Linked DNA regions of Homo sapiens. The protein of the gene in region 1 interacts with the protein of each later gene in a biochemical or structural test. Each region holds a gene or a part of one and is shown on either strand. Other genes may lie near its edges.

The links. Proteins that work in one complex are often made in the same cells at the same time.
Region 2: the proteins of RAB11FIP3 (region 1) and ARF4 form a complex in vitro, tested with the Homo sapiens proteins (one study listed by IntAct).

Annotation. Positions count from the first base shown.
Region 1 is NC_000016.10:477,560-481,306, forward strand, and holds part of RAB11FIP3 (rab11 family-interacting protein 3), read left to right. Parts: exon of another isoform or gene 1-97; intron 98-3,747. UniProt on the Homo sapiens protein: Downstream effector molecule for Rab11 GTPase which is involved in endocytic trafficking, cytokinesis and intracellular ciliogenesis by participating in membrane delivery. Recruited by Rab11 to endosomes where it links Rab11 to dynein motor complex.
Region 2 is NC_000003.12:57,590,612-57,594,358, forward strand, and holds part of ARF4 (ADP-ribosylation factor 4), read right to left. Parts: intron 1-3,747.

The sequences.
Region 1 (3,747 bases):
TCCTGCCTGGCGTCCCGCAGGCCCAGCACAGGCCAGCCCTGTCCTGAGTGGGCCCTGGGCCCTGCCGTCCTGCAGGAGTGGGAGCTGCCCAGGGACGGTGAGTAGCACGAGAGCTGGGGTTTCTTACAGTGCTCTCCTGGTTCTGGATGTTACAGTGGATGCTCTTGAGGAATGACTTAGTTTTTATGAATTACTTCCTTAGATTGTAGGGGAGATTATAATTGGACACCCAGAGTAGGTACACTTCACAGCACTCCCTGTTCCCTTGTGGCTTTAGAAGCAGCTGGCAGGGATTTCCCACCCACCAGTGACACTCGCACCCTGCAGTCCTTGTTTCTGTGCTTTGAAAAGCACCTTCCTGGGTTGTCTTTCTTGGTTCCATGAGGTGGCCACCTTGTGAGACGAGAATTTATAACCCCCGTTTGCGGCAGGGCTCCAGGTGGTTGAGTCACACGTCTGAGGTCACACGGCTTTTAATAAAGGGGCCAAAGATGGAACTGCGGCCTCCCGCAAGTGCGCCAGGCTCCTGGCAGCTCGGCCTGGCCCTTCACGTCTCTTCCAGTGAGGCTCAGGTGGGTGCAGCCTGGGGTGGGACCCTCTGGTAGCCCTCGCAGGTCTTAGCACACTGTCTACTTCTTTTTTTTTTTTTTTTGAGATGGAGTCTTGCTCTGTTGCCAGGCTGGAGTGCAGTGGCATGATCTTGGCTCACTGCAGCCTCTGCCTCCTGGGTTCAAGCGATTCTCCTGTCTCAGCCCCCCGAGTAGCTGGGACTGCAGGCACGTGCCACCACGCCTGGCTAATTTTTGTATTTTCAGTAGAGATGGGGTTTCACCATATTGGCTAGGCTGGTCTCGAACTCCTGACCTTGTGATCCACCCGCCTCGGCCTTCCAAAGTGCTGGGATTACAGGCATTAACCACGGCGCCCAGCCACTTTGTCTGCTTCTTACGATACTAGAACTAGAGTGCAAAGGGCATCTTTTTCTGCTGGGACTGCAGCTTTTCTGAGATCTTGTTTATTTGCAAATTGTTAACCTCAGAGTCTTCTGAGCATGAAATGTTGGCCACTTTTCCTAACCAGCAATTTCATTTTCATTAAGGTTGAAATTATAAATTGAAAATGTTGGCTGGGCACGGTGGCTCACGCCTATAATCCCAGCACTTTGGGAGGCTGAGGTGGGCAGATCTCTTGAGGCCAGGAGTTCAAGACCAGCCTGGGCAACATAGCAAAACCTCGTCTCTACAAAAAATACAAAAATTAGCTGGGCACAGTGGTGCATGCCTGTAATCCCAGCTACTTTGGTGGCTGAGACACAAGAATCACTTGAATCCGGAGGCAGAGGTTGCAGTGAGCTGAGATGGTGCCACTGCACTCCAGCCTGGGTGACAGAGTGAGACCCTGTCTCAAAAAACAAGAACAATTAGAAAAAGAAAAAAAAAGTTCTGTTTAATAGTTCTTTAGTTTTGTGTTCATTTGTATGATCCACAAATATTTACTATCTACCTATACCTGGTCCTATGCTAGATGCTAGATACTTAAGAGTAAAAACAAGTTGGGTGTGGTGGCTTATGCCTATAATCCCAGCACTTCGGGAGGCTAAGGCAGGCAGATCACTTGAGCTCAGGAGTTTGGGACTAGCCTGAGCAACATGGCAAAACCCCATCTCTACAAAAAAATACAAAATCAGCGAGGTGTGGTGGCTCACACCTATAGTCCCAGCTACTCAGGAGGCTGAGGTAGGAGGATTGCTTGAGCCCAGGAGTTTGAAGCTGCAGTGAGCCAAGACCGCACGACTGCACTCCAACCTGGGTGTCACAGTGAGACTCTATCTCAAAAAAAACACAGCAGTAAAAACAGTAAAAACAATTGGTTGCGATGGCTCACACCTGTAATCTGAGCAGTGTGGAGGATCACTTGAGGTGCGGAGTGGATGACCAGCCTGGGCAACAGAGTGAGACCCTGATTCAAAATAAATAAATCAACAAACAAACAAACAACTGAGCCAGGTGTGGTGGCACCTGTAGTTCCCAGCTACAGCTAGATCCTGTCTCTATTTTATTAAAATAAAAAAGAAATTACTCTGCCAGGCTCAGTAGCTCACACCCATAGTTCTAGCACTTTGAGAGGCCAAGGCTGGTGGATCACTTGAGCACAGGAGTTCAAGACAGCCTGGAAAACAAGGCAAAACTCCATTTCTACAAAATTTCAAAAAATTAGGCATGGTGGCTTTTACCTGTGGTCTCAGCTACTCAGGAGGCTGAGGTGGGAGGATCACTTGAGCCCAGGAGATCAAGGCTGCAGTGAGCTGAGATTACACCATTGCACTCCAGCCTGGGTCTCAAAGAGAGACACTGTCTCAAACAACAACAACAAAAATTACTCAGAGTACCTTGTTTTCTGCTCTCAGACATGTACCTATTTTTCATTTAAAAAAAAGTTGAATTCAGCCAGGCACGGTGGCTCACGCCTGTAATCCCAGCACTTTGGGAGGCCGAGGCAGGTGGATCACCTGAGGTTAGGAGTTCGAGACTGGCCTGGCCAACGTGGTGAAACCCCATCTCTACTAAAAACCCAAAAATTAGTGGCGTGGTGGCACGCATCTATAATCCCAGCTACTCAGGAGCCTGAGGCAGGAGAATCTTTTGAACCCGGGAGGTGTAGGTTGCAGTGACTGGAGATTGCACCACTGCACTCCAGCCTGGGCAGGAAGAGTAAAACTCCTTCTCCAAAAAAAAAAAAAAAAAAAAGTTGAATTGTGTTTTATTCATTTTATTTTCATTTTTGAAATAGAGGCTCACTCTGTCGCCCAAGCTGGAGCTTAATGGCATGATATCAGCTCACTGCAAAATCTGCGTCCCAGGTTCAAGCCATTCTCCTGCTTCAGCCTCCTGAGTAGTTGGGATTACAGGCATGTGCCACCACACTTGGCTAATTATATTTATTTATTTATTTATTTTTGAGACGGAGTCTTGCTCTGTCGCCCAGGCTGGAGTGCAGTGGCGTGATCTCAATTCACTGCAACCTCCACCTCCCGGGTTCAAGCGATTCTTCTGCCTCAGTCTCCCGAGTAGCTGGGACTACAGGTGCCCGCCACCACACCTGGCTAATTTTTGTATTTTTAGTAGGGACAGGGTTTCACCATTTTGGCCAGACTGGTCTCGAACTCCTGACCTTGTGATCTGCCTGCCTTGGCTTCCCAAAGTGCTGGGATTACAGGCGTGAGCCACTGCGCCCGGCCTGTATTTATTTATTTTAATTTTTTTTTTTTCAGACAGAGTTTTGCTCTTGTTGCCCAGGCTCGAGTGCAATGGAGTGATCTCAGCTCACCACAACATCCACCTCCCTGGTTCAAGCAATTTGCCTGCCTCAGCCTCCTGAGTAGCTGGGATACAGGAGTTCGCCACCACACCCGGCTAATTTTGTATTTTCAGTAGAGACGGGGTTTTTCCATATTGGTCAGGCTGGTCTCGAACTCCCAACCTCAGGTGATCCTTCTGCCTCGGCCTCCCAAAGTGCTGGGATTACAGTCGTGAGCCATTGCGGCCAGCTGTTATATTTATTTTTAATTAATTAATTTTTTTGAGATGGGTCTTTATCACTCAGGTTGGAGCACAGTGGTGTGATCACATCTCACTGCAGCCTCGACCTTTTGGGCTCAAATGGTCCTCCTGGCTGGCGCTGTGGCTCACTCTTGTAATCCCAGCACTTTGGAAGGCTGAGGTGGGTGGATCACCTGAGGTAAGGAGT
Region 2 (3,747 bases), on another chromosome or scaffold:
TTTATCTTTCAAATTATCTACAAGTTTGAAATATACCTTCATAATTATAAGTGTGTGTGTGTACATATATATACATTTGTTTTTTGAGACAGGGTCTCGATCTGTCACCCAGCCTGGAGTGCAGTGGTGCAAACATGGCTCACTGTAGCCTCAAACTCCTGGGCTCCAGCAATCCTCCCACCTCAGCCTCCCTAGTAGCTGGGTCTACAGGGGCACGCCACCATGCCCAGCTAATTTTTAAAATTTTTTTGTAGAGATGAGGTCTTGCCATGGTATGGTGCCCAGGCTGCGTAATAGTTTAAAATAATAATTTAAAATTGAATATTTACTGCATTCTAAGCATAGTAGGTGATTCTATACATTTTTGGACTTTAATTCTCACAATAACCTTTCATTTTTCAGATGAGACATTTAATGTCCAGAAATGTCCCCCACAGTCACAGAAACAGAAGAACAGATATTTAAAAACCTGAGTCTTGCAGAAAAATTAGAACCCTCATATATTGCTAGTGGGGATGTAAACGAGGATGTAAAATGGAAATGTTTGTCAGGTCCTCAAAATGTTCAAGACGGTTACCATGACACAATTCCGCTCCTAAGTATTTATCAGAGAATTTAAAACACATGCCCACACAAAAACTTGTTCATGAATGTTGAAGAGCTAGAAAGTGAAAACAACCTAATTTTTATCATCTGATGAATGGATAAATAAAATGTGGTTTATCCATACAATGTAATTACTATTTGGCCATCAAAAGAAATGAGGTGCTTATGTGAATTTAATGAAAAGGAAAAAAAAAAGAATGAAGTACTAATATACGCTATAATATGAATGAACTTTTTTCTTCTCTTTTCTTTTCTTTTTTTTTTTTTGAGACAGAGTCTCACTCTGTCACCTAGGCTGGAGTGCAATGGCACGATCTCAGCTCACTGCAACCTCCACCTCCCGGGTTCAAGGGATTCTCGTGCCTCGGCCTCCTGAGTTGCTGGGACTACAGGTATCTGCCACCACACCCGGCTAATTTTTGTATTTTGAGTATAGATGGGGTTTCACTATGTTGTCCAGGCTGGTCTCGAACTCCTGACCTCGTGATCTGCCCGCCTCAGCCTCCCAAAGTGCTGGGATTACAGGCGTGAGCCACCGCGCCCGGCCATTATGAATGAACTTTGACAACATCATGCCAAGTGAAAAAAGCCAGACAAAGAGGCCATAAATCATGATTCCATTAAATGAAGTGTCCGGAATAGATTAACCCATAGAAACAGAAAACAGATTACGGGCTGGGAAGAAAGGGGAATGGGAATTATTACTAATGGGTATCAGGTTTCTTTGAGGGATGATGAAAAATTCTGGAATTAGACAATGGTGATGGTTACACAACTTTGAATACATATACTAAAACCCACGGAACTGTACACTTTAACAGGGTAAACTTTATGGTCTATGTATTATATCTTGATTTTTTTATTAAAAAATTTTCTAAAAAGCCAAAACCAAAAAACCTAGTTCTGATGCCAGAGACCTCAAATACTATTTACATGCTGCCATCCTGCCTTTAGGTTTTTCTGGTGGACATACTGTATCTTAATATTTTGGCCAGGCACGGTGACTCATGCCTGTAATCGCAGCACTTTGGGAGAATGAGGCAGGTGGATCACCTGAGGTCAGGAGTTTGAGACCAGCTTGACCAATATGGTGAAACCCTCTCTACTACAAATATGAAAATTAGCCGGGCATGGTGGGAGGGGGCCTGTAATCCCAGCTACTGGAGAGACTGAGGCAGAAGGATTGCTTGAACCCAGGAGGCGGAGGTTGCAGTGACCTGAGATTGCACCACTGTACTCGAGCCTGGGTGACACAGTGAGACTCCATCTCAAATATTTTTTATCAAATTCATCAGATGCTTGACCAACCAAACTGAAACTCAGGCCACCAGTTATACGGAAAAATGTGAACTTAGGTTCTGCTTCTACACACGGATGAGAAACATCTACATTTTTATCAGTTAATTAGCAGCAAATTATCAAAGTTTCCGACAGCCTATTGCACTACTATAATAATGCAAAAGGGTGCATCTAAGGATGGCTGTACCTATCAGCCAGTGGCATGAAACAGGATTTTTGCCTTTTCTGTTTCCTATATTCACATAATCAGAAGAGCCTGTTTTTTTAAAGGCTGGCAGTTATATGTTCAACCAATAACCTGAGAAAATGCTTGTAATAAGCTAAATCAAAAAGAGAGGACACAAAACTAAACATCACAACTACAATTTTAGAGGAACAAAAACTTCCTCTTAAAAGGCTGAGCGTGTACCAGGTGTGGTGGCTTACACCTGTCATCCTAGCACTTTGGGAGGTCGAGGCAGGAGGACCTCTTGAGCCCAGGAGTTTGAGATCAGCTGGGCAACAGAGCAAGACCCCCATTCTCTACAAAATAATTTAAAAATTAGCCGGGCATAGTGGCGCCTGTAGTCCTAGCTACTCCAGAGCCTAAGGCAGGAGGGATTGCTTGAATCCAGGAGTTCAAGGCTACAGTGAGCTATGATCATGCCACCTGTATGTGCCCCAGAGTATGGGTGACAGAGCAAAACCCTGTCTCAAAAAATAAAAATAAAAATAAGGCTGAGAGTAAATATGACAGAATAGTGGAATTACAGATAGGTAATTATCACTTTATTCTTTTACCTGTTTTCTAAATGTAACAGAAGGAACACATACTACTTTTAGAATCAAGAGGAAAAACATAAAAAAATTACATAAATAGATGGATTTACAAAATATGCTAAGAAACAAATATAAAACACCACTCTTTAGCTTGGTAATATTTTTTAAAGTGACAAATATAGGATCCTTTCTCCTGAACATCTCTAGACCCCCAAAACCACAGTCACATTCAAGACAATACAGAACTACACTGGCATACTACACTACACTGATATCAGCAAACTTTTTAAAAGTAACACTTTTTCAGCTTTTCAACAGGCAAGAACTGGAAAGTTCAAAGTAAAGAGATCAGAATTAGTAATTCCTCTGCAGAACACATTAGTATTTTTGGATATATACATAATTTAAGGATTCACTTAACAACATTACATCTTATCATGGATCAAGATACAGAAACCAGACTTAAAATAGGACAATGCAGCCAGGCTCAGTGGCTCGCCCTGTAACCCTAGCACTTTTCGAGGCCGAGGTGGGCGGGATCGCTTCAGCCCAAGAACAGGCAAGATAGTGAGACCTTCTTGCTACAAAAAATGTCAAAAATTAGCCAGGCAGGTCTAATGGCATGTCCTTGTTGTCTCAGCTACTCAAAAGGAAAAAAAACATAATTATTTAAAAAATATATACAAAATACAGAAGCTGGCTGGGTGTGATGGCTCATGCTTGTAATCCTAGCACTTTGGGAGGCCAAGGCAGGTGGATCACCTGAGGTCAGGAGTTCGAGACTAGCCTGGCCAACATGGTGAAACCCCGTCTCTACTAAAAATACAAACATTAGCTGGGCTTGGTGGCGGGCGCTTGTAATCCCAGCTACTGAGGAGGCAGAGGTTGCAGTGAGCCTAGATCATGCCATTGCACTCTGGCCTGGGAGACAAGAGTGAAACTCCATCTCAAAAAAAATAAACAAAATAAAATACAGACGCTATTGCTTTATTTTTATTTTTTTCAAATAGATACGGGGTCTTGCTATGTTGACCAGGCTGGCCTCAATGTGATCCTCCCAACCTGGCCTCCCAAAGTGCTGGG